Homo sapiens: one gene and its partners. The protein of the gene in region 4 interacts with the protein of the main gene of each other region in a pairwise test. Each region holds a gene or a part of one and is shown on either strand. Other genes may lie near its edges. The genes, in order: CDCA8, PPP2R5D, PPP2R5A, SGO2 and EXOSC8.

The links.
Region 1: the proteins of SGO2 (region 4) and CDCA8 interact in binary tests that used the Homo sapiens proteins (3 or more experiments, as listed by UniProt).
Region 2: the proteins of SGO2 (region 4) and PPP2R5D interact in a two-hybrid assay, tested with the Homo sapiens proteins (one study listed by IntAct).
Region 3: the proteins of SGO2 (region 4) and PPP2R5A interact in binary tests that used the Homo sapiens proteins (3 or more experiments, as listed by UniProt).
Region 5: the proteins of SGO2 (region 4) and EXOSC8 interact in a two-hybrid assay, tested with the Homo sapiens proteins (one large-scale study listed by BioGRID).

The regions. Positions count from the first base shown.
Region 1 is NC_000001.11:37,698,516-37,702,515, reverse strand, and holds part of CDCA8 (borealin), read right to left. Parts: intron 3,612-4,000; coding exon 3,539-3,611; intron 2,081-3,538; coding exon 1,995-2,080; intron 763-1,994; coding exon 698-762; intron 1-697.
Region 2 is NC_000006.12:42,990,715-42,994,714, reverse strand, and holds part of PPP2R5D (serine/threonine-protein phosphatase 2A 56 kDa regulatory subunit delta isoform), read right to left. Parts: intron 1-4,000. UniProt on the Homo sapiens protein: The B regulatory subunit might modulate substrate selectivity and catalytic activity, and might also direct the localization of the catalytic enzyme to a particular subcellular compartment.
Region 3 is NC_000001.11:212,357,972-212,362,415, reverse strand, and holds the end of PPP2R5A (serine/threonine-protein phosphatase 2A 56 kDa regulatory subunit alpha isoform), read right to left. Parts: intron 3,731-4,444; coding exon 3,629-3,730; intron 1,779-3,628; coding exon 1,646-1,778; 3' UTR 563-1,645; downstream 1-562. UniProt on the Homo sapiens protein: The B regulatory subunit might modulate substrate selectivity and catalytic activity, and might also direct the localization of the catalytic enzyme to a particular subcellular compartment.
Region 4 is NC_000002.12:200,570,771-200,574,770, reverse strand, and holds part of SGO2 (shugoshin 2), read right to left. Parts: intron 3,722-4,000; coding exon 794-3,721; intron 1-793. UniProt on the Homo sapiens protein: Cooperates with PPP2CA to protect centromeric cohesin from separase-mediated cleavage in oocytes specifically during meiosis I. Has a crucial role in protecting REC8 at centromeres from cleavage by separase.
Region 5 is NC_000013.11:37,006,950-37,010,614, forward strand, and holds the end of EXOSC8 (exosome complex component RRP43), read left to right. Parts: intron 1-25; coding exon 26-122; intron 123-1,107; coding exon 1,108-1,228; intron 1,229-1,779; coding exon 1,780-1,886; intron 1,887-2,234; coding exon 2,235-2,350; 3' UTR 2,351-2,665; downstream 2,666-3,665. Other genes in the region: SUPT20H (transcription factor SPT20 homolog), read right to left, coding at 2,723-2,860, 3,603-3,665. UniProt on the Homo sapiens protein: Non-catalytic component of the RNA exosome complex which has 3'->5' exoribonuclease activity and participates in a multitude of cellular RNA processing and degradation events.

The DNA of each region.
Region 1 (4,000 bases), on a different chromosome or scaffold from region 4:
TGCTGTACCTTCCCCCACATGGCTTATGGTAGAGTCCAGTATAATCAACTCAAGCCCATAGAGGTTCTTCACTTTGCAGGACTGGACAAAACATTTCAAGAAACCAATTATAGGTAAGTGACAGCCACTCTATGACGAGCTATGGGGTAGCTCTACATATGGACTATCAGGAACTGAAACATAACAGGCAGTTCTTGCTATACTTAAAAAAAAAAAGTGGGGGCTGAGGTGGGTGGATCACCTGAGGTCGGGGGTTCAAGACCAGCCTGACCAACATGGAGAAACCCCGCATCTACTAAAAATACAAAATTAGCCGGCATGGTGGCACATGCCTATAATCCCAGCTACTCGGGAGGCTGAGGCAGGAGAATCATTTGAACCCGCGAGGCAGAAGTTGCAGTGAGCCAAGATTGCACCATTGCACTCCAGCCTGGCCAACGAGATTGAAACTCCGTCTCAAAAAAAAAAAAAAAAAAAAGTGGGGAAGGATAGAGAATGTACATTAAAGTACTGGAGATGGTTTTGGTTTAGGTCATTTCTAGAGACCCCTCCAGCTTGGATACTCAAGGATTCAGTGATTTTAAGCTGCTTTCAAACACTAGCCACCAGAGCCTTTTCACTGCCCCTCACTTTCTGCCATGATATATATGGCTCTCCAATAAAACCCAAAACACCACAACTTTAGAAAATCCACTACCTTTTCCCTTTTCCTTTTCCTTGTATGGACTGAGTTCTCTTCTTGGATGGAGGACACCTTTTGACCTGCAGTCACAATCAAATGAGACTAAGGTTACAAAAAACCCAGCAAAGAGGAAGGTAAGGAGGGTTTTTTTTTTTTTTTTAAAGCATTAAGAACAAGCTTTGGATAGTTAATACTAAATATAATAAGGTGTATCTCAGAATTCAATGACTTAAAAAGTTCAGAACATAACTAATTGAATAAGGACTTCCACTGGCTGGGTTTTCAAAATAGAGGATTTTGACCAAGATTAAAGGTAAATCTCTTTTGAACTGATTGCAGCCTGGCTTGTACCCCACTACTTTACATAAAGGGCTGCTGTGAAGGTCACTCAGGGCGTCCCAGGTGCCCAATCAAAGGCAAACCCTGCAGTGCTCCCTTCCTGGGGCCTGGGAGGTCCCTGGCAAGAATCACTCCTTATCTTCCATATATTCTCTCCTCCCTTGTCCTCCGTGATGGATCTGTCTTTCCTGCTTCTCTAACTTCCTTGGCAGTCTGCCTTAGGAGCTCCTCTCTCTACCCTCCCTCTAGTGTCCACCCTGACTCCCTCCCTTCCTGCTCTCCCTGCACAACCATCTCCACTCCCACACTGGGACAAACACCTAAAGATCTGGGAGGCAGTGTATCTCTCAAATCTCCCTCTTCTCCCTGAGCTCCAGGCTGAAATTTCTGTCTAGCCTAGATGTCCTGGAAAAGTAATGAATGGTCAACATGTCATGCAATTGGCATGTGCTCCACCACCCCCAGTCCAGCACCCTCTGCCACCTGGGTCCCACACCTCACTGGATAGCATTTGCCTTAGCTAGAAACCATGCAGTTGTCTCTGATTCCTCCTTTTCTCCACCAACCATGCCACTTCTTTCTAAAACCTATCTAAAAACCATCCCTTCATTCTATAGTGTCAGCATGTCAGTTCAAGAATTCATAGGCTTCTAACTGGTTTCCTCATCTTCAGTTTTCCGCCTCCCCCATCTATCCTGAATACTGTTCCTCTTCCCTTTCTTCTCTAGCTAGTAGACTCTCACTCACCTTGAAAGGCCTGTCTATGTCCTAGTGGGGTAGGGGAGGCTTGCTAGCTTCCTCTTCTGTGTTCTACACACTTTGCACACCAGTCAATTATCTCTTTTGTCATTGCCATGTAAAGTAGGATCATCTCTACTAAACTGTGAGCTCTGGTGTACAACAGTGTATTTTATGCATTTGTATTTGCTTGTCTTGTGATAACCCCCAGCCTCCAACCTCAGTGTCCACTTACTCTTGCAGTTTGAAGATTCTTACGTTCATTTTCTTCTTCTTCTTCCTCTTCCACTATCATTTCATCTACCTGTATTACCTTTCGTGCTGTAAGAAACAGTTTCAACAGGGTGGTATTTCTGATGAAAATAAAGTTTTGTGCATTCACATTTCTTATAGGAATAAAATGTACACAATCTTAAGCTGCAAGGAAGAAATGGACTAAAAATAAAGAAGACTTTTTAAGAAAGAGGGTTTAGACAAAGGAAACTAACCAGAGTGTTAAGAGACCCCATATGATGCTTTGTAGGGACAGCCCAGCATTCTGAATAATTGAGCTTGCCCTGCCTACTGTAGAGCGTGCCCTGGTGTGTAGCCCCGAAATCCTGGCCATGGGTCAGGATGTTCTTATAAGAATTGGATGCATCAAACTATCATAGCTTAATGACAGTGACATTAAGTCCATGTCACAATTCATCCTGATCCGATTCCTTGCTCACTAGTCAAAACCTGGTTTCCCATACAACTTTTCCTATAAGACAGTGTTTCTCAGAGTGCGGGACATGTATGTAAGATGATTTTATGTGGATAGATCATGGAATTGAGTAACTTTTTTTTTTTTTTGAGACAGAGTCTCGCTCTATCGCCCAGGCTAGAGTGCAGTGGCATGATCTCAGCTCACTGCCAGCTCCACCTCCCGGGTTCACGCCATTCTCCTGTCTCAGCCTCCCAAGTAGCTGGGACTACAGGCGCCCGCCACCACGCCCGGCTAATTTTTTGTATTTTTTAGTAGAGACGGGGGTTCACCGTATTAGCCAGGATGGTCTCGAACTCCTGACCTCGTGATCCACCCACCTCGGCCTCCCAAAGTGCTTGGATTACAGGCGTGAGCCACCACGCCTAGCTGAGTAACTTTTTTTTTCCTTTCCTTTCCTTTCCTTTCCTTTCCTTTCCTTTCTTTCTTTCTTTTTTTTTTCAGAGACAAGGTCTCACTACATTGCCCAGGCTGGTCTTGAACTCCTGGGCTCAAGTAATCCTCACAGCTTGGCCTCCCAAAGTGCTGGGATTACAGGCGTGAGCTACCGCACCTGGCCTGAATTGAGTAATTTTGAATTATATGCAGAGAAAGTCATTCCTTTTTCAATTCGCTTTCAACTTTGTTGATTACATCAGGGAGCGTCTCAGTTGGTGTTACCAGTCTTTTAACACCTCTCTAAATCTTGTCATCTATTTAACCCAGGAGAAAGTAAGCAGGCAACAATGTTTGGTTTCTAGCACAGCTTTTTTCCCCCCTTTTTTCACTTTCATTTTAGCTCGCACACGGGTCTTGAGTTTGGTTTTTAGCAGTCCTGCCTAAAATTAACTAAATTTCTGGTTTGAATTGCTGTTCGGGGGAAAAAAAATTAACTAAATGCACCATCCAAAAGCAAGTTTTTGGATTTACAAGATTAAGAACCAGACATTAAAGGGAAGAGGCTCTACCAACAAGGCGCTGCCTGAGCAGCCAACCAAGCAACCTGAGCCTCAGTTCTTTCTGTACAACAAGGAGTTTTGAAAGGTACTCACTTTTGGCAGATTTCAGGGGTGTCTGAATAGCTTCTGCTGTTAGTTTGTTTATTTCGGTGATATCCAGGTCAGCCTATGACAAACATAGCCAGAAAGCACCAGGCTTATTCCACCAAAATATGAGGAACAATATTTCAAGATAAAAACTTTTTTAAAACTATTATTTAATACATAAGACTGTTAAATGTTAGTGATACAATATACAATATAGCAAACTCCCATAAACCCACCACACAGCCCAAGACCTAAAACATTGCCAATAACTTGCTTCTGGCTCTGTATTCATTCCTTGTTCCATTTTCTTATCTCTTCTTCCAAAGGTGATGAGTCTCCTAATCCTTCATTCCCCAGGGGTAACCATATCATTGCACTTGCTTTATCGAAAGGTACATGTGTATGTGCTCACAGATACATGCATATGTGTGTATACATGTGTGCACACACAGATGTGCTTTTTCACAA
Region 2 (4,000 bases), on a different chromosome or scaffold from region 4:
TCCCGAGTAGCTGGGATAACAGGCTGGGATTACAGGCATGCCCCACCATGCCCAGCTAATTTTTGTATTATTAGTAGAGATGGGGTTTCACCATGTCGGCCAGGCTGGTCTCTAACTCCCAATCTCAGGTGATCCGCCCGCCTCGGCCTCCCAAAATGCTGGGATTACAGGCGTGAGGACATTGAATTTTTTTTTCCAAGGACAGATCAAGAAAGACCCTTACCTGCAGAGGCAGGTCAGTGGGGTCTCACCTGATCTCCCAAGGCTCCTTTCCATTCTAGGATTCACTTCTAGAATCTTAGAGCCAGCAGTATCACTTCATTCAAGACCACAAGAGACTCCAGAGTCACACAGACCTGGGTTGAATTCCAGCTCTGCCTTACTGCCTTACTGGCTGAATAAAAGCTACTTAACATTTCCTTTTGAGACAAGAGTCTTGCTCTCTCCCCCAAGCTGGAGTGCAGTGGCACAATCTCAGCTCACTGCAACCTCCACCTCCCAGGTTCAAGCAATTCTCCTGCCTCAGTCTCCCAAGTAGCTGGACCATGCCAGGCTAATTTTTGTATTTTTAGTAGAGACAGCGTTTCACCATGTTGGCCAGGCTAGTCTCGAACTCCTGACCTCAGGTGGTCTGCCCTCCTCGGCCTCCCAAAGTGCTGGGATTACAGGCGTGAGCCACTGTGCCCAGTTAACATTTCTAAGCCTCAGTTTCATCTGTGAAATGGGAATAATAATAATAAAGGAATCTCAGGGGAGTATTGTGAAGGTTAAATGAGACAATGTATGCAAAGTACTTAGCACAGTGCCTGGTACATAGTGTTGCACAGTATCCAGTCCCCTACCCCCTCCCCTCACCAAATTCATGTCCACCTAGAATCTGTGAATGTGACCTTACTTGGAAACAGGGTCTTTGCAGATGTAATCAAGTTAAAATGAGATCATACTGGATTGGGGTGAAACCTAAGTCCAATATGACTGGTGTCCTTAGAAGAGGAAAATTTGGACAGAGACAGAGACACATGGAGGAGAATGCTGTGTGAAGACAGAGGCAGAGATTAAAGTGATGCATCTACAAGGAATGCCAAAGATTGTCAAAAGCCACCAGAATCTAGGAGAGAGATGTGGAACAGATTCTTCCTTAGAACCTCAGAAGGACATGGCCCTGCCGACACTAATTTTACAACTTTTGGCCTCCAGAGCTGAGAGAGAATGTATTTCTTTTTTTGTTTGTTTTTTGTTTTTTGAGACAGAGTTTCCCTCTTGTCACCGAGGCTGGAGTGCAATGGCACGATCTCCTCTCACTGCAACCTCCGCCTCCTGGGTTCAAGCAATTCTCCAGCCTCAGCCTCCCCAGTAGCTGGGATTACAGGTGCGCCACCACTACGCCCGGCTAATTTTTGTATTTTTTTTTTTTTTTGAGACGGAGTTTCGCTCTTGTTGCCTAGTCTGGGTTGCAATGGTGCAATATCGGCTCACTGCATCCTCCGGCTCTTGGGTTCAAGCGATTCTCCTGCCTCAGCCTCCCTAGTAGCTGGGATTACAGGCATGTGCCACCACGCCTGGCTAATTTTTGTATTTTTAGTAGAGACAGGGTTTCACTATGTTGGTCAGGCTGGTCTTGAACTCCTGACCTCAGGTGATCCACCCGCCTCGGCCTCCCAAAGTGCTGGGATTACAGGTGTGAGCCACCATGCCCAGCCCAATTTTTGTATTTTTAGTAGAGACAGTGTTTTACCATGTTGGCCACGCTGCTCTCAAACTCCTGACCTCAGGTGATCCACCTGCCTCAGCCTCCCAAAGTGCTGGGATTACAGGTGTGAGCCACCGCACCCAGCCTATTTCTATTGTTTTAAGCCACCCAATTTGTAATAATTTGTTTTGTTTTGTTTTCTTGAGACAAGGTCTCGTTCTGTCACCCAGGCTGGAGTGCAGTGGTACGATCATGGCCCACTGCAGCCTTGAACTCCTGGACTCAAGCGATCCTCCGCCTCAGCCTCCCGTGTGGCTGGAAGTACAGGGGCACATGCCCCCACATCCAGCTAATTTTTTATTTTTTATTTTTTTGTAGAGACAGGGTCTCTGTATGTTGCCCAGGCTGGTGTCAAACTCCTGCCCTCAAGCAATTCTCCCACCTCAGCTTCCCAAAGCATTAGGATTACAGGTGTGAGCCAGCATGCCGGGCTTATTTGTAGTAGTTTATTATGGCTGCCCTAGGAAACTAACACAAAGTAACTGCTCTATAAAATAAATGTCAGCTGCTATAACTATTAGATCAATTAGAAAGGCTCTGGCAAATGCCTGACAGAGCAAAGCTGGCTAGAAGAGCCCAAAATTCCGGACAAGAAAAGGGCAAGGGGGCCGGGCGCGGTGGCTCACATCTGTAATCCCAGCACTTTGGGAGGCCGAGGCGGGTGGATCACGAGGTCAGGAGATCGAGACCATCCTGGCTAACATGGTGAAACCCCATCTCTACTAAAAATACAAAAAATTAGCCAGGCGTGGTGGCGGGAGCCTGTAGTCCCAGCTACTCGGGAGGCTGAGGCAGGAGAATGGCGTGAATCCAGGAGATGGAACTTGCAGTGAGCCAAGATCGCGCCACTGCACTCCAGCCTGGGCGACAGAGCAAGATTCCATCTCAAAAGAAAAAGGGCAAGGGAAGGACTGTGCCAAACAGCTTTTGAAGACCACAGCCTCACATCCTAGCTCCAACTTTTCCCCATACCCCTGCCATACCAGACGTGGGTACATTTCTACAAAATCATGGATAATTCCTGCTGCCATCTCATACCTGTGAACCCTGAGCAGCGTTTCACCAAACAGCCCAAGGTGAACTCAACACCCTCCTTTCCCAGATTGCTTGTAATAGACCCATTGTCTTAGGCATATTTGTTTGAAAGGCAGTGGATAAATCATAGCAGTTGGTCTCAGCATACTCCTTAACCTGTTCAGGCTTCATTTTCCCATCTATGAACTGATAACGTTAGACCCTAAGGTCCTTTTCAGCTCTAATGTGAAATTGGTGCATTTGTTCATTCACTCGTTCACTCATTCACTCACTAATACATTCAAATGCTGGGTGCTTCTGCTGTGTCAGGCCCTTCAGGAGTGAATGAGAGCCTCATGGAGCTCTCGTGCTAACACAAGAGACAGCCGATAAAACAATGAATTCACAAGGAATTATTTCATGACAGTTGTGGTTAGGTGCTACCAGCGCTACCAGGTACTGAGTGCCAAAACAGCAACTAACAGAAGCCCTCGCGAGGTCCTGGGGATAGGGGTGGGTGGTCAAAGAAGGCTGCTTTAAGGAAACGACATCCCATCTAAGAACTAAAGAAGTAGGAGTTAGGCAAAAGGTGGGAACTCCCCATTAAATTTTCCTTCCTCTCCCAGGATTTTCAGGACTTAGAAAATCCTGTTTCTTGCTGCTCTAAATGTCAAGTTACCAGCTTCCAACCACCTTCCCTGTGGGTCCCACAATTATAATCATTCCTGAAAGGGAGACTGAGCCCATAGTGTGTCTTCCCAGAAGCATTTACTATGAACCAACTGCACAAGTACACAGAGGTAGGAAAGAAGCAATGCAGAATAACATAGCTCCTTCCCTTGGAGTTCACAGTCTGAGAGGAGAGACACAGATGGGGACAAATCGTCACAGAGCTGAGTGATAAGGATTATTAAGGAGATATTTAGAATACCGCATAAGGGCCGGGTGCAGTGGCTCACGCCTGTAATCCCAGCACTTTGGGAGGCTGAGGCGGGTGGATCACCTGAGGTCAGGAGTTCAAGTCCAGCCTGGCCAACATGGTGAAACACCGTCTCTACTAAAAATACAAAAAAATTAGCCAAGCATGGTGGCATGCGCCTGTAATCCCAGCTACTCAGGAGGCTGAGGCAGGAGAATTGCTTGAACCCGGGAGGTGGAGGTTGCAGTGAGCCGAGATCGTACCATTGCACTCCAGCCTGGGCAACAAGAGAGAGACTCCATCTCAAAAAAAAAAAA
Region 3 (4,444 bases), on a different chromosome or scaffold from region 4:
CTCTTGCCTCAGCCTCCCGAGTAGCTGGGATTGTAGACGCCCACCAGCACGCATGGCTAGTTTTTATATTTTTAGTAGAGACAGAGTTTCACCATGTTGGCCAGGCTGGTCTTGAACTCCTGACCTCAGGTGATCGGCCCGCCTCGGCCTCCCAAAATGCTGGGATTACAGGCGCGAGCCACCGCACCCAGCCAATAATACCTGATTTCTAACTGTGCCACAGGCTCCCTGCTCTTCACTAGAAGTGCTATTTATTATGGATTATGAAAAATTAGCTTCAAAGTAAATTAAACCCATCCTCTTAACATACAAGGATATGAAAGATGATGGAAAGATATCCTAGAACTTAGAATTTTATGCAAATATTCTGTAAAACATATTTTGGTAAAGGGCTAGAACACTCAACCTTGGCACACAATCTTCCTATTTTTAAATTAGACTTCGTCCCACAATTTGTCTTAAAAGTTTCTATAAATACACATATGTATGTAAAAAGGGGGGCAGACTTCTCCTGTATGCCTAAGCTTAGAGCTAAAAGAAGCAAAGATGACATAAGGCAAAATACAAACATAGACTTTATTAAATGCTGCTCAATCCCCCAATGAAGATCTTTCATTACAAAACAGTTTTCCACACAACTGCAAGTTAAGAGATTGGAATGGTACTCTGATAACAAAAGATGTGAGAAATACTTGACCAAGTAAAAACATACAAGACCTCTATATAGTCAACCTTTTCAGAGCTCTACAGAGGAAGCCTACTGCAGTTCCTTTAAATAAAGCCAGGCAGTGACAACTAGTGCTCTGTATCACCACACTGTGGGACTCAAAGCCTCCATCCCTGGGTCAGGAGGGACTAGGTGAAGGACAGGTTGTGAGGACTGGAAAGGCCCTGCCTTCAGCCTTTGAGAGGAAGAGGAGGAATGAATTGAGAGGCAAGCTGGGTAATTCACCTGAGCTGCCTCTACCCATCTGTTACCACTCTGGAGAATTGCAGAGGAAGGGGGATATTCATGAGGAACAATCTGAAGAATTTTGGTTTACTTTCCCAGCTTTTATTTATATTTTGTGCTTTAAAAAGCCTGGAGATTTAAGGTTTTGCCTAAATTCCAGAGTACAGTAATGTATTTATTGAGGGAGGGGTTAGGGCAGGTAATTCCCCCCATCATATTTCTGGGTGAGACAAAGAGAAGGGTAAGGATGATACCTTAGTTTTATTTTAGGAAGTATTTTTTCCTAGGATGTAACTAAGGTTTGCAGCAGTGTGAAAAGCACATTATAAAAGGGAAAAATATACAGAGCAGACTACCATATCTATGTGCAACACAATCAAAGAAGAATTCAAGTCATAATTCTTACCACTCCCATAATTATCTCACTCATATCATAGATGATAAAATTCATTCATTTCTGTGAAACTTCAGAAGTGACACAATAAATCCAATGATTAGACAAAGGTTACAATATACTATGGCCATGATACAGCACAGGGCTACGTTTAGTCCATATATTTTTCCATTTACAGTTGCCAGAAAAAATTGGCCTTTTAATTATATTATACTGATGAGGTTTGTTTTGTAATTTTTACATATTTCAAAAAAGCATACAAAACTCTGCCTATCCGGCAGAGGTGGGAGGCTTTTTTTTTATTCGGCACTTGTATTGCTGAGAATACTGTGCATGTTGTAAGCACTATTCTGTTTTTCTAGAGCTTTCTTTAGCTTTAGCTCCTCTAATTTTTTCCATAATTCTTCACGTTCCAATTCCTTCTTTTTCTCTCTGTAGATAAACCAAAATTTTTGTAATCAGAAATTATTTCAGAACCCAAAGAGAGGTGCTGTTTGACAGCTTACTGGAGAACACATTACTTACCCACATTTCACTTAAATCCCTCTGCTAAAGCTTTGGAGTCCACTTACCTGGAGCACCTAATTTCTTCTTGTCACTCTCCTAAATGTACTGAGTCTGTGCATCTCCTGTACCAGCTAGACGTTACTACTTGCTTTCTGTCCCCTACACATTATCACTACCATGACACTGTACTTTATAGTCAACAAAGTACTTACACGTCAATTTTCTCACGTAAACATCTTGCAGTTGTAGTAGTCTAATCAGTATTACAAAGGCTGAAGGGGCTGGCCACTAGGTCAGTAGGAAGCACTTCCTTCACCACACCAGACAGAAGCCACATCATTTTTGCCACTAACAGCCACATCTCTAGCCACTAACCAGTTTGTATCTTACTAGCTCCTCTTTTACATGTCAAATGAAAACTTTAGTTTCAGTAATCTTTCTCTAGAACAAAATGAAGGTCAAAATATTTCATATGTCGTTTCAACTAATTAATTTCAGTTCTAAGGAAAACATTTCTGAGTAACTTGAACCTGTCTATTCTGAAAGGCTCCATGAACATGTAAAACATAGGCTTATAATTCTGCAGTTATGAGTTAAAAGGACAAATCCTTTTAAAGGATTTGCTGATTTATGCAGGTAAGAAATGATGAGTATATTCTTAGTCATGTGAAATACATATTTTTCAAATACAAGTTTCCTATGATCCTAGTCATCTTATTTTCTTCCCATTGCTTCCTGAGGCTCAAAACATGTACTTAATTTCTATTCCTGCCTGAATGCTGCTATTTAAAGGAAATAATGCATTGAGTTAGTTATTAATGGGCTGGATGGCTTTGAAGAAAGGCTATCCATTTTCTACTTTAAGATAACCATAACTAGGAACTTGTCAAAATAGATAGCTTTTCTAAACAGAACAGGTAATATGCTTATTAGAAGTAAATGGTAACTGTTATCCTCAAATAATGGGTGGGCTCAGGTACACTGGTTACTAACCACTTAAGTTTAAGAAAGTGCTTCTTGAGTTTGAAATAAACATATGAGAAGAAAGTAACTCTTGAAAGATTATTTTATAGTAATTTATGAAATTCTCAAAAAGAGGTAATCACTAGGCCATGTTCCTAAAGGCTGATACGTGCTAACATTTATACTCTAAAATACATATTATTGCAAGGACAACATATTAATAGTACCCTAAGCCATATCATTATGTGACTTCCCTCTTCCCAAAGGAGAACTATGCTGACTTTAAAATACCACCTTCTGATAATCCACAGCGTAAGAATTACCTACTGCTAACAAAGAACACTTGAAAAGTAAAGCTCACTCTGGAAGCCCACGTGGACAAAAAGGATTTTCGTAAATGCATGGATAAAAAATCAAATTGTACAAATTGATATTTAAAATTCAGCATAAATTATATTTCATATGCAGATGCTAACAGACTGAGGAAATCTAAGGCTCAGAATGAGATAAACAGGATTTATGATCCACATTAAAATCATAATCTAACCATTTAGAGGAAGTAAATTATGTAACTACCCTCAAAAATAAATGCTACTGCTTTTTCTGCTTTAACAAATTTATAAAAATACTGGGGCTAGTTTATCTGGAAATGACTTATATGTTAAGAGACTTTCACATTGTAATGTTTACTATAAGGTAATTAACTTCTTAAATATGAAAATCTGAACTGAGAGAAGATACCTTCCTGAACTGAATCACATTCAACTAACATAAAATGTATAGATAATTTTGTAATTCAAAATATCAAATACCTCTGTCTTTCAGCTTTGTATGAGCTAGTAAGGTCATCGAAAAGCTTGCCATTCATTTCCATTAGGGTTTTCAGCACATTGTATACCAGTGCTACAATGGTCCTGAAATGAAAATGAGCCAGTCCTGAGTTATGATACTGCTAACAGAGAGGAAATGTAACACTATGGTCTCTAAAATGGGTTAAAGCTTGGCTGATTTCATTTAATCCATTTTAGAGATGATAAAACTGAGGCTCAAGAGGTTTGTAATATGCTCAAGGTCATACAGCAAGTGGTGGTAGAGACAGTCTAAGAAAACTTAAATCTTTTCCATTTTATCATGCTTACATTAAACTCTAGTTAAAAATGTTCACTATAGTTATCTTCATTTCTGCTTTACAGTCTCATGTCTGAAATCCTGAGTAACAACATTAAAAGAAGATGAAAAAGATCCAATTACCAAAACTTATGAAAAGTAGAAAGCCGGATAAGGATGTTAAAGAAGTTAGAATATATTACCCTTAGCACTTCGGCTTTCCCCTGGGACAGTGCCATTTATAGAGGGGAGACTATACACTGAGAGTAGACCAACACAACTCTGCATTAACGGAGTAGTTTGTGTATCCTCTGCAAATGTTCAGTTGGTCTCCCCAAGAGGGTTTGACCACAACCTCCAGGGAGATTTGCAATTTTAAATTGACATGAAGGCTGGGCACAGTGGTACATGCCTATAATCTCAGCACTTTGGGAGGCCAAGGTGAGATGATCACTTGAGCCCAGGAGTTTCAGTCCAGCCTGGGCAATATAGTGAGACTTCAACTGTCCAAAAAAAATAAA
Region 4 (4,000 bases):
TTGGGTCTGCATGCACATGGTAAATGGACTAAAGTTCTCCCAGGTGATTTTTTCCCCCTCCCTTTTTCTGACTCTCTACTTTTGATTTTTTTGCAATGAGTACTATTTTAATAACTGGGAAAAAAATAAAAAGTAAATACTACAGGTAAAAATCTTACTTATCCTTTAGGGCCTAAAATGCTACCTATTTAAGGATGCGTTTGAAGATTCCTCTAGTCAAAATTACTCCCCATTATATCCCTTAGCATAATACATGTGCTTAAAGAATCGTTTATTCCATTTCACCATGATGTTTGTTACATACATGGAATCTGAGGAAAGGGGGTTGGTATTGTTTATTTTTCAGTCCTCTATAATATCTAGAAGGGTTTGATCACATTAAATATACGTTGTTGAATGGGGAAAGAGTCTCACTCTCAAGAAACATGCAACTGTCTTCAGTAAAATAAAAACCAGTACAATTCATTATTATATACATTTAAAACATTCAATTTCCTTCAGATGTATGAAAAAGCAAATTATTTGCCTATGGTCTTTATTAGACAAGTTTGTGGTAAAGGCCAAATCCATTTATAGTTGTAAATGTCCAAGATACTCTCACTGTTATTTCCCAAAGTATGAAACTTTCTTTATTCCTTCATGCTATTTCTATGGATCATGTACTCAGTTATATATTGTTTTTAAATTCCATAAAAATACCAGTTAGAAAATACTTCACTGGCTAAGTAAAAAACGAAAACAAAAAACAAAACACTTCTAAAACTTTATCATTTCATAATGGTTATTAACCTACCTATTCCTGATTTTTGGGTTCTCCGGTTGACTTTAAATTTCATCTTGTTCATCTTCTCATGCTCATCATCACTTACTTGAAAGGCTGGGGAGCACTCCAAGGCAAAATTTTCTTTTATTATCACATTTTTACCAGAAGAAACGCTCAAAGGTACTAAACCTTCACGAACACTGTCAAAGGAAGAATCTTGTATGTTAGGTGAATGTATCTCAGACAAAGATCTAAATGCCTTTGTGTAAAAGTCTGGCTTATTTTTGACCATTTTCTCATTCTCCAAATTGTTTTCCTTATCAGCTTGTTCAGATACAGTAGACTTTCCCTGAACGCTGTCAAGTATTCTTTCCATTACTTCATGGCTCTCTGGAGAAGGATCTATGGAGGTCTTCCTTTTCTTTGACTTAGATGTCATTTTATTTACCTTTTTAACCTGACACTCTCCTTCTTTTATTTCTTCCACAAAAGGGAGATCTTTTTTATTCAAAGTGGTAGTGCTTTGCTTCTGAGTCTTACATAGTTCAACTGGGTTTCCTGGATCAGAATCTGCTTCACTAGTAATATGTTTTAAATCAGATTCTAAGGAGATAGATGTCTGTGAAGATTCTGTTAACTGTGAAGCAAGTTTGTTCTTAGCTTTTGTCAAAATGTTCTTTGCCTTGCATGATGATTCTTTCTTACGTTTTTTAACTACTTTGTAGGAATCTAAAATTTGATCACAACTTTCCTTTTCATTACTGTTGACTTCCATATAGTGTTTATTGATAATGTCTTGGCATTCAAGTTTTTGTTTAGATTTATTTACTTTAAAATCAAGATCTTTTGTATAGCTTTCTTGGACATGTGCATCTTTATCATTATCCTCATATATCTGGTTCATTTCAGAAATTATTTCTGTCTTCCAATTCACTTTATTCCTGAGCTTATTTATTTTTGATTCATTTTGCTCAGCAGATTTCCTATCAGTAACATACTTTTTCAACTCCAATATATTCTGGGTGTCATAATCACATAAATTTCCATTATCTTTGATGAGAAGATCAACTGTTTGAAATTCATTTGTGACTTGTAGATTTTCAGAAATTGTTTCTTTATCCTTTGGGGTTAGAGAGAAGAAGTTATCTTTTTCTAGGTCATGTACACCTTTGTTATCATTCTCATATATTTGGTTGGTTTCAGGAATTATTTCTGACTTTTGACATACATTTAGTCTAGGCTTCTTACCTATTTTTGAATCATTTTGACAAGCAGGTTGCATATCATGGCCATGTTTCACCCCCAAAACATTTTGAATCTCAGAATCATACAGGTTTCCACTATCTTTGGTAGAAAGAGCAGGTGTTTCAAACTCACTTGGGTCTTCTAGGTTTCCAGGGATGATTTCCTTATCTTTTTGCGTTAAAAAGAGTGAGTGACTTTTAACTGTGTATTCTATACTTTTGTCATTATCTAAATGATTCACTTCAGAAATTATTTCTGTCTTCCGATTTACTTTCTGCCTAAGCTTCTTATTAACTTTTGATTCATTTTGCTGAACGGGGTACATATTGGTGATCTGCTTTTGCAAACCCAACACATTCTGGGTCCTATAGTCACATTGATTTTCATTATCTCTAGTAGAAAGAGCTGGGATTTGAAGCTCTTTGGAAACTTCTATGTTTTCAGAGATAGGTTCTTTATCCTCTTGGGTTTTGAAAAAAAAATTACCTTTTTTTAGGCCATGCACCACATCTTTATCATTATCCTCATACATGTGGTTCATTCCAGAAATTATTTCTGTCTTCCGGTTTACTTTCTTTCTAAGCTTATTAATGTTTGATTCATTTTGCTCTGAGGGTTGAATATCAGTGACATACTTTTTCAAATCCAATATATTGTGGGTCCCATAATCACATAAATTTCCATTATCTTTGGTGGAAAGATTGGCTGTGTGAAATTCATTTGTGACGTCTAGGTTTTCATAAATGGTTACTTTATCCTTTTGGTTTGGGAGTAAGTTATCTTTTTCTAATTTGTGAATCACAAATGTCTGTCTAGAAGCTTTACTTTTATTACAAGTTAGGGAATTCTGACCCTTATCAAATTTACTCTCCTGGTGAAATTTACCTGAACTTTGGGATAAAGAGTATGTTTCCTCTTGCTCATTTGTTATTCTTTTCTCCTTTTTATTACACAGTACATTTTCTCTGTCACCTTGTTCAAAGCCAGTTTGAAGGGTCATTTTCTTTAGTTCATTCACCTGAGCCAGCTGTTCATTCATCTGAGCCAGCTGTTCATTATTGAAAATAAAACCGGGATCTTCTGCACCCCTTTTGCCATCCAGGACATCAGATCTTTCTGTCCTGTTTTCAATCTTTTCCCCAATATCGACATCTGAACTATTTTTAAACTGTCTCTTTGATCTTTCTCTCTTTTTTTCAGAGCTGGAATCTTTCACTTTTCTGAAAGTTTTCATTCCATGTTCATTTGTTTTTTTATTACTTTTCTTTTTAATGCCTGTTGAGACTGTGACAATTTTGCTGACTTCACTAGCAGTTAAATCCATGTCAGCATCATACACAGTTTTCTGCAATTGAAAGTCATCATTATCCTCAATTTGATTCATGCACTCTGCATTAGGTTCTCTGGCAGACTCAGAAGATAAGCCAGGAAGATCCTGTTTATTTCTTTGCATTTCAGTATTTGTTTCATTAGTATGACCATTTATCTCATTATTGCAATTTAATTCTGGACTTGAAATGTGTTGTTTATCTAAAACTGTTGCACAGGGAGTGTCTGCAGAAAGATTATTTGATTCCCAAGATGACCCACGCTTCTTCCTTTCAGTCACATTACTAGGAGATGGTTTCTCCCATCTGCGGCCAATAGACTGGGCGTTTCTCATCTCACTCATTAGAGAAGTCTTAGAACTTTGGTCTGAGTGGGAATGGCTTTCTATTAAGAAAAGGAAAACAAAACTCAGAAACAAGTAATGAAATAAATAAGTTACCTTAAACAAATTAGATTCGAAATCAAGCTGTTTCACAGATATAATTTCTGACAATGTGTTCTGATCAGATCCTAATATTACTAAGAATCTATGCTTATAAGAAAATAAGTTAGAAATGATGAATACTCCTAAATCACATTTTACATTTGTATCTACAGAAAATATATACTGAGAATTCTGCCTCAGCCCCAACAGTAGAGTGGAGTACAGCCAACAGTAGAACC
Region 5 (3,665 bases), on a different chromosome or scaffold from region 4:
CCTTTTGTGTTTAATTCTATTTTAGCTTGTCTGGGTTCTATACTGTGATCTCATTTGCCTCGACTACGATGGAAACATTTTGGATGCCTGCACATTTGCTTTGCTAGCGGCTTTAAAAAATGGTAAGCAGCCTTACAAAAAAGGCAATATTCCCACTCATGGGTTAGAATGTTGTTTTGTGAAACTTTTAATGTACATTTGCTTTCGTATGCTTCCAAATTAATGAATGTAATGCTGACATGACTTTCCAAATATAGTTGATAGTTGTATATTCTCTAACTGAATGCTCTTTAGAGTGCTGCTTTGACTGTACCCATCTACTTAAGTTAGGACTTCAGTCCTTTCCAAAATAGTGTTAATATTGGTGGGAGAAGGAGACAAGAGTTGTAACTTCTGGCTAGGTGATTGGTGAAGATCTGCCAGTATCCTCATAGTTCTTTATGTGATATTGCCAAAAGAAGTAGAATGGATTCTGTTGTTTTTACTGTGAGGCCATAGTAATAGGGAAGTTTCTTAGCAAGGAGTCTAGGTTGACTGATTAGTTACAGATTTCAATAACTTGTGCATATTCCCTATCATTGATGAATGATGAATTGGTAGGAACAAATAATTGGAGGTGGAATATAAAGTTAGCACAGCAATATTATAGTAGAGTGGTTAAGTGAATTGGAGGTAGAAAATGAAGTCAGCAAAATATTATAATAGACTGGTTAAAGTAGATTCCTGGCTCTCTCACTCTGTGCTGAAGTTTCCTTATCTATAATAAAATAGGGATAATAGTACTTACTTTGTAAGAGTATTGATTAGGTGAATACAATGAAAATATGAAAATGCTTAAAACAGTACCTGGCAGATATAAATTTAAAAAAAAATCATTGACTTCTTAAACTTAAAAAAAAATTATGCAATAAGCACTAGGTAGGAATGTCAGATGTTGTGAAAAGCAATGTATATCCTCTATATTTACCTTAGTGGCTGTAAGGTGCTTTTTAAAAAGAAATGTTCTGGGCAAGTTAAATAGAGGGAAAGGTGAATTAAAAAAAAAAAAGCTTAGAAATCATTTGTTTCTTAGAGACTTACTTACTTTACAAATTTGCCTTTTCTTAGTACAGTTGCCTGAAGTTACTATAAATGAAGAAACTGCTTTAGCAGAAGTTAATTTAAAGAAGAAAAGTTATTTGAATATTAGAACTCATCCAGTTGCAACTTCCTTTGCTGTGTTTGATGAGTAAGTTAATCAAACTTACTTTAAAATTTTCTATATTTAAGATTAGGGTAATTGATGTTCAGCATTCTAACTCTTTAGGAAGTGCTATGGTGACCCTACATCCTAGTTTTCCCTGGACACTTGAGTTTCTACTTGTCCCTGCACAATTATTTCTAGTCACTGCACAATTATTACCTGTTCCTTGGTTTACTTATACCTGTGTAATGTTAATTTCCAATTCTTTCACTATAAGATTTATCTGAAGCTATCTTCAATATTTTCCAAGGATTTTAGCACGTTCAGAAATAGAAGAGCAGGGCCGGGCATGGTGGCTCATGCCTGTAATCCCAGCACTTTGGGAGGCTGAGGCAGGGGATCACCTGAGGTCAAGAATTCAAGACCAGCCTGGCCAACATGTTGAAACCCTGTCTCTACTAAAAACACAAAAATTAGCTGGGTGTGATGGCGTGTGCCTGTTAATTCCAGCTACTTGGGAGGCTGATAGTATGTTTAGTATTTTAAAGTAAAATTTGTTCCATGGATTGATAACTTATATTTTTTTCTTTTTATAGCACTTTGCTTATAGTTGACCCTACTGGAGAGGAGGAACATCTGGCAACAGGAACCTTAACAATAGTAATGGATGAGGAAGGCAAACTCTGTTGTCTTCACAAACCAGGCATGTTCCCGCCACTTCAGTCCTAAACATATGTAGATGAAAACTCAGTGTGAGCCTTAAATTAGGGAGGGCCAAATAGAATATGGGATATTTTATTTACCTAATTTTAGTATAGTTTCTTAGCTACCTAAAATGTTCTTCCATCTTAATGGTATATGTCAGTGGTTCTTAAACTTAAGACATACATTAGAATCACTTGGAGGTCTTGTGAAACTAACTTGTAGATCTTGAGACTGTACCCTGATTTACATTATCCAATTTTTTTGTTTTATAATTTGACATGACATTAATGTTTTTTGAAAAGGAATGATAACTGAGATTAAAAGTATTGGCAAAATAATTTTTCAGGTGGAAGTGGGCTAACTGGAGCTAAACTTCAGGACTGTATGAGCCGAGCAGTTACAAGACACAAAGAAGTTAAAAAACTGATGGATGAAGTAATTAAGAGTATGAAACCCAAATAAACAGCCACCACATTTTCAAAACAGATTTGTAAAAATTGTATTTGTTAACACTGTGCACAAACGTTTTATACTAAATAAATATCAAACTACATTCTTCTGAAAGATGTTTCTATTATTTCTTAGGTCACTTCCATATATATTATGTATAGTGAAACCATTTTTAAAAAGCAATGACTTAGGCAAACCAACCCTAGTTTGTTAAACCATTTCCCTGTTTTTATTTAAAAATGATAAGGTTGTGCTTCTGTATAAAGTTTGTACATCTAGCAATGTAAAATACTGACACATTAAAAAAAACAAAAAGTAGAAACTCAATTCTTTTGATTCAGTGCTCTTGTGTTTTTAAAAAAGGAACAAAAAGTAATGCAAGACTCAAAATTTTGGAGTGGTTGGCGTGCCTCTCTTCATTTTACTTTTTGACTGGCTGCCTGTATGCCGATGATGATGTAGCTGAGCTGTTTGTGCTGCTGCTGCTGCCATAGCCATTTGATGCTGCAAGAATCGCAACTGCTGCAAAAGGGAGGGAAAAAAATCGAGTTATGTTAAATGCAGGCAGGTGTAGAAAGGTGCTTTTCCTGAGTGACGAAACAACACAACTGAAAAAGGGAGAAAGCACCAAGATAACAAAAAGGGACTATACCACATTGAGACAATGCACAGTCAAACAGCACCAGTGGCACAGAAGCCTGCTAAGGGCTTTAAAAATGATTCTTGGCAAACTTCAAAATTATTTGTTACTTTGCCCTGCCAGTCTATATTGTAGTAACTCAGCAACTTCAGTTACCATTTTGTTGTATAATGATGGTTTATAGCAATATAAAACAACCCTGAATATCAAGATAGTCAACTATAATATGCTGACTTTCCTTCCTAAAATTATGGTATAACATTTTTCTAAATAAACAGGTATGACATTTACTAATAGGAACACTTTTCTGCAGTAAAATATTAGAAAGTTAACAATTGGCACTTACAACTGTCTTTCAAAATATACTGCATACTAGAAAAATGTATGTTAATGTGCCACCAGCACTTCATGAAAAATTTTATAGAGTATGGCTTAAATATACAAAATATATTCAGTGCTCCAAGTTGACTGGCTAAAATGTCAGACTTTAAAATTTGCTAAATTATTTACCAATTACTGTACAGTCTTAAAAGACAGTAAAATAAAACTAAAGCAAGTTATTTTGAGGTACTTTTGGAGCTGAGTATCTTTAAAAATGTAATCAGAGTGAAGTTGCTGGATTACTTGTATCTGTTGCTGCTGCTGTTGAAAGGCAGAGGAGAGCTGGAATCTCTGCTGAGGAAGGCT